Homo sapiens: one gene and its partner. The protein of the gene in region 2 interacts with the protein of the main gene of each other region in a biochemical or structural test. Each region holds a gene or a part of one and is shown on either strand. Other genes may lie near its edges. The genes, in order: CASK and CASKIN1.

Region 1 (3,812 bases), on a different chromosome or scaffold from region 2:
TCTTTCTAGTTTAATGTCTTTACCATCATCCTCTAGCTTTAAAGTTGGACCACAACATCTTATCATATAGTATTATTAGACGTGCTCAATTGGGCCTCAGTTGTCTGAAATAAGATGGCATAAAGTATTAGACCTGTACTAAAAGAGCTGGACATGTGTTAGGTGGTTTTCCTATGGTCCACATGTAGTTTGGCAGAAGTGAGAGGATTCTAAAAAATGCCACAAGGCCCTTCTGTTATGGACAGTTTTGGATGTACAATGAGGAAGGAATTTCATCCTCACCATCTTGTCTTCTGAATTGTATTCTTAGCTCCTGACCCTGTGCTTGACATATAATAAGGGCTTAATACAAGTTTGTTGGATTAAATTGTCTGTAAGATACAGTAGAGGGGTCATCTAAGAAGCTGGAGTGGGAAAGGGGGATGGAGAAAAATGTCCTAAGGAGAGAGCCTCCCTGGAGCAGTGAGGCTCTGCCTGAAAGCAAGTTGTTCATGGTCACGGGTATCCTGAAGGCAGGATGAAGGCCTTGTCCAGCTGAGGAGAGACTGGGCTGAGGGCAGAGAAGCCCGAGAGTGAAGCCCAGTCGGTGCAGACTGCGGGCATTCTCAGCTGTACTGTGGTATGCAATGGTCATTGTGAGACCAGGACTGGCATGAGGCTGGCCTGCGCAGGAGGGCCTGGGACCAGTGTAGTCAACCAGACCAACAGGAGGAGCAGGACCTGGGCAATCCCTATCCCCAGGGCCGCTGGCCCAAAGAGACTCAGGCAGCCAGGATGCCTATGGCCGGCCCTCAGGGCTAGGTGGATCTGAGAGATCACAGTTCTGAGAGGCAGGGACCCAGGAAGCAGGAGAGAAGAGTGCAGGTGAGCTCATCCAGCACTCAGGGGAGCAGAGGAGAGTGCCCAGCCGGGGTGAGGAGGTGCTTTGGGGCCAAGTGCAATGGGTAAAAGTAACTGCTGTGGGTGTCCTGAGGAGGCTGAGAGAAGTGTCTCCCACTCAGCAGTGCAGAGCAATGCATGGCTGTGCAAGGGCAAGGAGAAAGGGAGAGCTGGACGCTATGGGTGGAGCAGCAGCAGCAGCGGCAGCAGCAGCAGTGGCGGTGGCGGCGGCAGCAGCGGAGGCAGGTAAGGCAGAAAGCCCTCGAAAGTGGACTTAGGTAATGCAGAGGGAGTCTGAGGAGCCCTGCAGCCAGCATACTGCTAGAGACATTACTACCAGCAGAAAACGACGTTCAGGTGAAGACCAGTGTGGAACCCAAGGAGAGGATGTCGAAGACCAGGACCAGGATTGAGACTTTGCCTCTAGCCACCCCTGGCCAGAAGATTTTTCCAATCCCTAGTAAGGAGGGATTAGTAGTTAAACAAAAATCAATCTGTGGTACACATCATATATTTAGTTCTATATAGGTCCAAGTTAATTGTTAAGTAAACGGCAGTGTTCACCCTACTGCTGCTTTCCTCCCTAGCCCCTTGAACAGATCCTTTTGTGGTTTCCAAAGTTCCAAGTTCAAGAACCCCATCAGGTGTTGTAAACGGAAATGGGTGAACCCACTGGCCACGAATTAGGATCCTGGAGCCCAGAAACTGAGCTGTCAGGTCCCAGGTCACACAGACTCTGGCTATATAGGTTCTGTCCTTGCTTTAGGGATGGTTAGGGGACCAAGTCTCATACAGTGGCCCTTGAACAGGGATTCGCCCTGCCTAAGATAGCCAGGTAAGCCTCCTGATGAAACACAGCCTGCTTGAGGGAAGCTGGTCTACTATTTCAGCAGGTAGCATACTGGTTCTATTTCTAAGGGTTAAAGGAGATTTGGTACAGATCAGTCCTAGAAATGGCAGACCCAGGAGTCACATGGCACCCACAAGCCTCTCCTATAACCCACCTTGATGTCTACAACTCCCAAATCCTTCCTACTATACTTTGCCTCCCATATCTACTTGGTTTGTACTCAGAGATGAAAAAACAGCTTGTCAGCATTTTTGATGTAAAGCCTTCAGCTTTCTCTTTTTCAAGTTTAATAATTCCTACTGCAAGACATATCTAGAAACCATTTCATCATCTCTGTGTCTGGCTCTCTTTTGAGTCCTCTTCCAAGTCTTTATCTCTCTCCTAGTTTTTGCTCAGGGTCAGGCATTGTGCTCAGGTAAGGAAATGGCAGAGGCTGAGAGCCACCATGGGTTTCCATCCCTGCTGTCTCTGACATCTGGGCTCACTCATGCTTGCTTTCATAAAGCTAGTGCTGTGTTTCAGACCCAGGCCCCAGGATCAGTTTCTCACTGGAGATTAACATAATGTGCTGGTAGAGGCTCTGATGGTCCAGCGTGAGCTGTACCCAGAGAGGGAAGGTGGCTGTTGTGATAACAAAGTGCCAGAGCCTCATCCTGAGGTCAGATGATCGTAGGATTTCTGGCAGGCGTAGACACAATCAGGAACCTTACTGAGCTTCTGCATATAATAAACCTCTTAAGAGAATAATCTCTGCTTCTTAAATACATGGTGTGTGCACTGAGTCCAACGATTAGTCAGCTGGCATTCTAGACTGTGAACCCCCAACGCCTCCATTACTGATACTTTTCTGTGGTTTATGAAATTATTATGTGACCTGTGACTTTCTGATGGCATTTTTGATTTCAGAATCTGTGCTTATTGGCATGCAGGCAGGATGTCAGACATTCGGGGAGGCTGGGCATTACCTGAGGCTCCACGTCCAGTATTGCAATCAGCCCCTGCTCGTGGATCTTCCGGATGGTCTCCAGTTTTGTCCCATACATCGCATCCTCGTGGCTGCCGTACTCCAAGTACTCGTTATTAGAGATGTCTTGCATCATTTGGTCATGAGATACAAAGTAATAATTCTTTCCATTTTCTTCGTCTTTCTTTGGAGGTCTGGTTGTATCTGCAAAGTCGCATGGCACAAGAGGTTTAAAAGGCTGAGCTGATGAGCTTACTACACTCCCAACAGATTTACTCAAACCCAGTCTCTTCCTAAAAGCTGTGGATTCTTTAGCGTATATCTCATATCCCCTGTTCTCACCCCCAGTGGCTTTGCAGAACTAAATTCTAGAAACCATATTTATCTGTGTGCATCACACCATAGTAGCCAGTGAATTGTCTGGTTTGGTGAAACTTTCAGTGTTCAGGTGAGATGTATTTTATCCCTTCATGAACCACCACAGGAGGAAGACGTGAAATGACCCAAGATTAATATAACTCACTGTATGCCTTAATGCAGTTGGGTCTTGTGTAGAAGGAAAAAAGGAGAATAAAAAAATGGAAAACTGCATATGGTTAAATTTAAATAAGCCAAAATTAAATAAAATTCAAATTTTAGTTTCTCAGTCTCACTAGTGGCATTTCAAGGATTCAATAACCACGTATGGTTAGTGGCCACTGTACTGGACTGCACAGACATCAAGTACTGTCATTGTCACAGAAAGTTCTATTGAAAAGTGATGTTCTATAACATCTTGCAAAAGGAGAATGTTAGGATACAGCAAAAGACACGTTACACTGAAAACACAATGACTGTGGCCAGACATACCCATAATTATTATGGAAGACCTAAATCAGGAGGTGACAAACTGGCTTATGGGCCAAACATGGTCTACTGTCTTTTTTTATTTTTATTTTTTTATTTTGGAGACAGAGTCCCACTCTGTAGCCCAGGCTGGAGTGCAGTGGTGCGATCTCAGCTCACTGCAACTTCCACCTCCTGGGTTCAAGAGATTCTTGTGCCCTCAGCCTCCTGAGCAGCTGGGATTATAGGCGTGTACCACCATGCCCAGCTATTTTTTGTATTTCCAACAGAGAC
Region 2 (3,812 bases):
GGGCTGCCAGGGCCTGGCAGCGGCACCTTCTTGGAGGTGGGTGTGGGCGAGCCCTGGAGCTTGGGCACAGGCTGCGTCAGGACGGGCTTGGGAGAGACAGGCGGCTTGGCCGGCTTCCGGGCTTCGCCCTCGGGCGGGGGCAATGGGGGTAGGTGCGCCAGGTCGGTGGGCGGGGGTTCGGCAGGCGGGGGCGGTGGAGGCAGCTCCGGAGGCCCAGCCTGCTCCGAGGCCGGTCGGCGGCGCACGGTGCCAGTGCCATTATGGTACACGGACAGTGGCGGTGGTGGCTCAGGCCCGGCCTCCCGCTCCTTGGCCTTGGGCCTGCGCTTGACCGTGTCAGACTCGGTCAGGATGAACTTGACGTTCTCCTGCTGGTTCTGCTTGGCCCGGATGCGCCTCTTGAGTGTGGCGCTGGCTTCCACCTTGGCCAAGGGCGGGCCTTCGACACCCGCCTCGCCCTTGGAGGGACCCCGAGGCCGCTGCCGGCCAGTGCCATCCTCCACAAAGGGGCCTGGGTCTGCCGACTCCCCAGGCCCCCGGCGGGCAGTGGCCAGAAGTCCGGTGACTGGCCCGCTGAGCGTGCGGCGCCGGTTCACCACCTCCCCGCCAGGCCCGATGGCCTCTTTGTGTTTCACTGAGGCCAGCACGGTGGCCACCCGGCCCGGCTCTGGGCTGGCAGGGCGGGGAGTGGGGTGGCCCTCAGGAGGCCTGCGGGCAGCCCGGCCCCCACCCCCAATGGAGGACAGCTCCAGCATGGCCGCGATGCTCTTCACACTGCCGGCACTACCCGTGTCCACGCTGCCGGCCAGGTCACTGGCCCGCCGGCACTGTGCCCGGACCCCCAGCAGGCCATCCTCAGGCTCGGCGTCAGGCACCGGCTCATCCGCCAGGTTGGCACTAGCCAGGGCCGAGCTGGAGCGCTTGGGTGGGGGCGGCGGGGGCCCCTTCTTTCGGGGCCGCACGGCAAAGGACTGGCTGCGGTTGACGTTCTTGTCGGCACCTGCGGGCGCCCTCACTGAGTGGCTGCGGCCCACGCGCCGCTGGACCGTGGCATAGGGGCCGGCAGCCGCAGGCACCAGCAGCTCGTCCCGCTCCGGCTCGCTGTCGGACGCCGCATAGCGATTCAGGCTGTGGGCCCGCTTCTTGGGCCGCCCCGGCTCCGCGTCGGCCTCAGGGGGCAGGCACAGTGTGGGCACAGCCGTCGGCACGGGTGGGGGCGCAGGCCCCGGGGCAGCCGGCCCCACCTCGCCCTCCACGGGCTGGGGCAGCACGTAGGCAAAGCCGCGGTGCGTCGGTGACTGAGGCAGGGAGCGGGGTGACATGGGGCGCTCTGTCGGCGGCAGCAGCTGCGGGGTGGGCTTCACCTTGGCCGTAGCTGGGGCTGGACCATGAGGTCCCCCAAGGGCCTGGGGAGAGCCTGGTCGGGTTTTGGTGGGCGTCTGGGGGGGCGTGAAGTGGCTAGTGCCTGGTGGGAGGACCTGCCGTGGCTTGCCAGGCACGGGGGGCACGCTGGCCCTCTTGATGCTGTGGCCGTGGCGGCCGGGCCGGGCCTCCCTGGGCGGGGTGCCGGGGGCGGGGCCCTCATCCAGGAGGTACTCCTGGCTTCGAGACATGGGGCTGCTGGGCCCAGGGGGCCCATCTCCCAGCAGCTCCTGCGAGCTGCTCATGTGCCGTGCCCGACCACCCAGGCTGGAGTCCTGCCGCGTGGTGGCCCTCGGGGTGGGTGGCAGGTGGCTGGAGGGCTTCTCAGTGGTGGGCCCCACCTCAGCCGGGCCAGTCATGGCAGCCTGCAGCTCGTCACTGAGCTCGCTGTCCTGGAAGGTGGTCATTTTAGGGGACTGGCAGTCGGCCGGTGTGGGCTCAGGCGGGGGCGGCGACTCGATGGCCATCACTTCAAGAGACTGGGGCGCCTTCCGGCGCAGGGGGCCCCCCTCATACTTGGCGTATTCAGCCTTCTGCAGCTCTGCCAGCTTCCTCACAGCGAGCATCAGCTTCTTCTGGTGCCCTGAGTGGGGCGCAGGGGGCAGGTCAGGTGGACCAGGAGGCGGAGGGGCAGGGGCCGGGCTAGGGGCGGGGCTGGGCTGGGCTTGGGGCCCAGCTTGGGGCTGGGGCGGGGCTGGGGCTGGGCTGGTGGCTGGTGGCTGGGGCTTGGGCTGAGGGTTGGGCTGGGGACGAGGGCTGGGGCTGGGGCCTCACCCAGCTTGGTGATGCCGATCTCCTGCAGGTCCTCCCAGGTGATGTCGGTGATGAAATCAATGTTCTCGTAGCCATTGTCCACCAACACCTTGTAGTACTGGGCCAGGCCGATCATGGACAGCCACACGGCCAGGTTAGCCTACAGAGCAGACACACAGAGGAGCCACCTGGGCTGGCTGCCCGCACCCTGCCCATCTACCTGGAGCTGGAGGAGGAAGGGTCACCGGGCCAGCAGGGCACAGACAGACAGGAGGACAAACGGATAGGCCGAGGTATTGGCACCAGAAATGTAGGCAGAGCCTCGGCTCAGGCACCGGACACTGCATGCCGCATATCGCACACATGCGCACACACGCACGGCTGCCCACATCCACAGGACACCCTTGTCGGGGGGGCAGAAGAAGGCACTTTCCCACCCGGCCAGGCAGCCACGAGTACAGCACCATGGGGAGACACACCCGAGTCATGGACACAGACGCATGGGGCCACACCTGGTACAGGAACACGCACATGATTTGCACGCTGCGCTCCCAGCCGTGCACAGGCACCAGCACCCCATCCCGTTTCACACTCTGACCTCTCACCCACATCACAGGGCCACACACATGCCACACAGCCACAACACACACACGTGCCAACACCCACAGCAATCTGCACCGAGAAACACCCGATCACTCCCCGAGCGGCATTCAGGCGTCCACACTTCCAGCTGGAATTCACTCATGCAACTGCTCTTGAACACTCAGCCACCCCCAGGTGCGCGGCAAGGCCCGTGGGACCCGGACCTGACCCCTAGGAGGATCCCCGAGCCACCAATTGAGTGAGGCAAGGCAGGGTGAGTGCAGACCCACGCGCCAGGTGGCTTTTGACAGCCACCGATCGCCTCTCCCGTTGGGAGCCCAGAGCTCAGTGTGAGGCCCAGAGAGTCCGCTTCAGTTGGGCTAGGCCTGGGCCCACCTTCTTCAGGCCCGGAACCCATCCCACTGCACAGGCACCTCCCTGTTGTTTTGCTTTGTTTGAGACGGAGCCTCGCTCTGTCGCCCAGGCTGGAGTGCAGTGGCGCAATCTCGGCTCACTGCAAGCTCCGCCTCCCGGGTTCATGCCATTCTCCTGCCTCAGACTCCCAAGTAGCTGGGACTATAGGCACCCGCCACCACGCCTGGCCAATTTTTGGTTTTAGTAGAGACTGGGTTTCACCGTGTTAGCCAGGATGGTCTCGATCTCTTGACCTCGTGATCCACCTACCTCGGCCTCCCAAAGTGCTGGGATTACAGGCGTGAGCCACCGCGCCCGGCCGCACCTCCGTGTTAATGACGATTGGCCATGGCGTGTGCAGGTATCGCTGAGAATGGGGGTGTCAGCTATTGGTGAGGGCCACACGTGCGGTGGAGCATGTGTGCACGCACACAAGCTGGTGGATGCCTGCAGGGTGTTCCATGCACACCTGCCAGGCGTGTGGCTGGCACGTACCTGGGTGCCTGTGAGCAAAGGCCGTAAGCATGGCCCCCTACAGTCTGCATGTGAGTGGCAGTGCTTGGAGGCTTGGTGGCTGGGGGTCCCTGTGGGGCAGCCTGCATGTGGAGGGAGTCCTGGTGAGAGCATGGACGTGGGGAGGG

What was found.
Region 1: the proteins of CASKIN1 (region 2) and CASK interact in a biophysical measurement, tested with the Homo sapiens proteins (2 studies listed by IntAct, with this or other methods).

Annotation. Positions count from the first base shown.
Region 1 is NC_000023.11:41,528,313-41,532,124, forward strand, and holds part of CASK (peripheral plasma membrane protein CASK), read right to left. Parts: intron 2,898-3,812; coding exon 2,695-2,897; intron 1-2,694. UniProt on the Homo sapiens protein: Multidomain scaffolding Mg(2+)-independent protein kinase that catalyzes the phosphotransfer from ATP to proteins such as NRXN1, and plays a role in synaptic transmembrane protein anchoring and ion channel trafficking.
Region 2 is NC_000016.10:2,179,595-2,183,406, forward strand, and holds part of CASKIN1 (caskin-1), read right to left. Parts: intron 2,336-3,812; coding exon 2,197-2,335; intron 2,006-2,196; coding exon 1-2,005.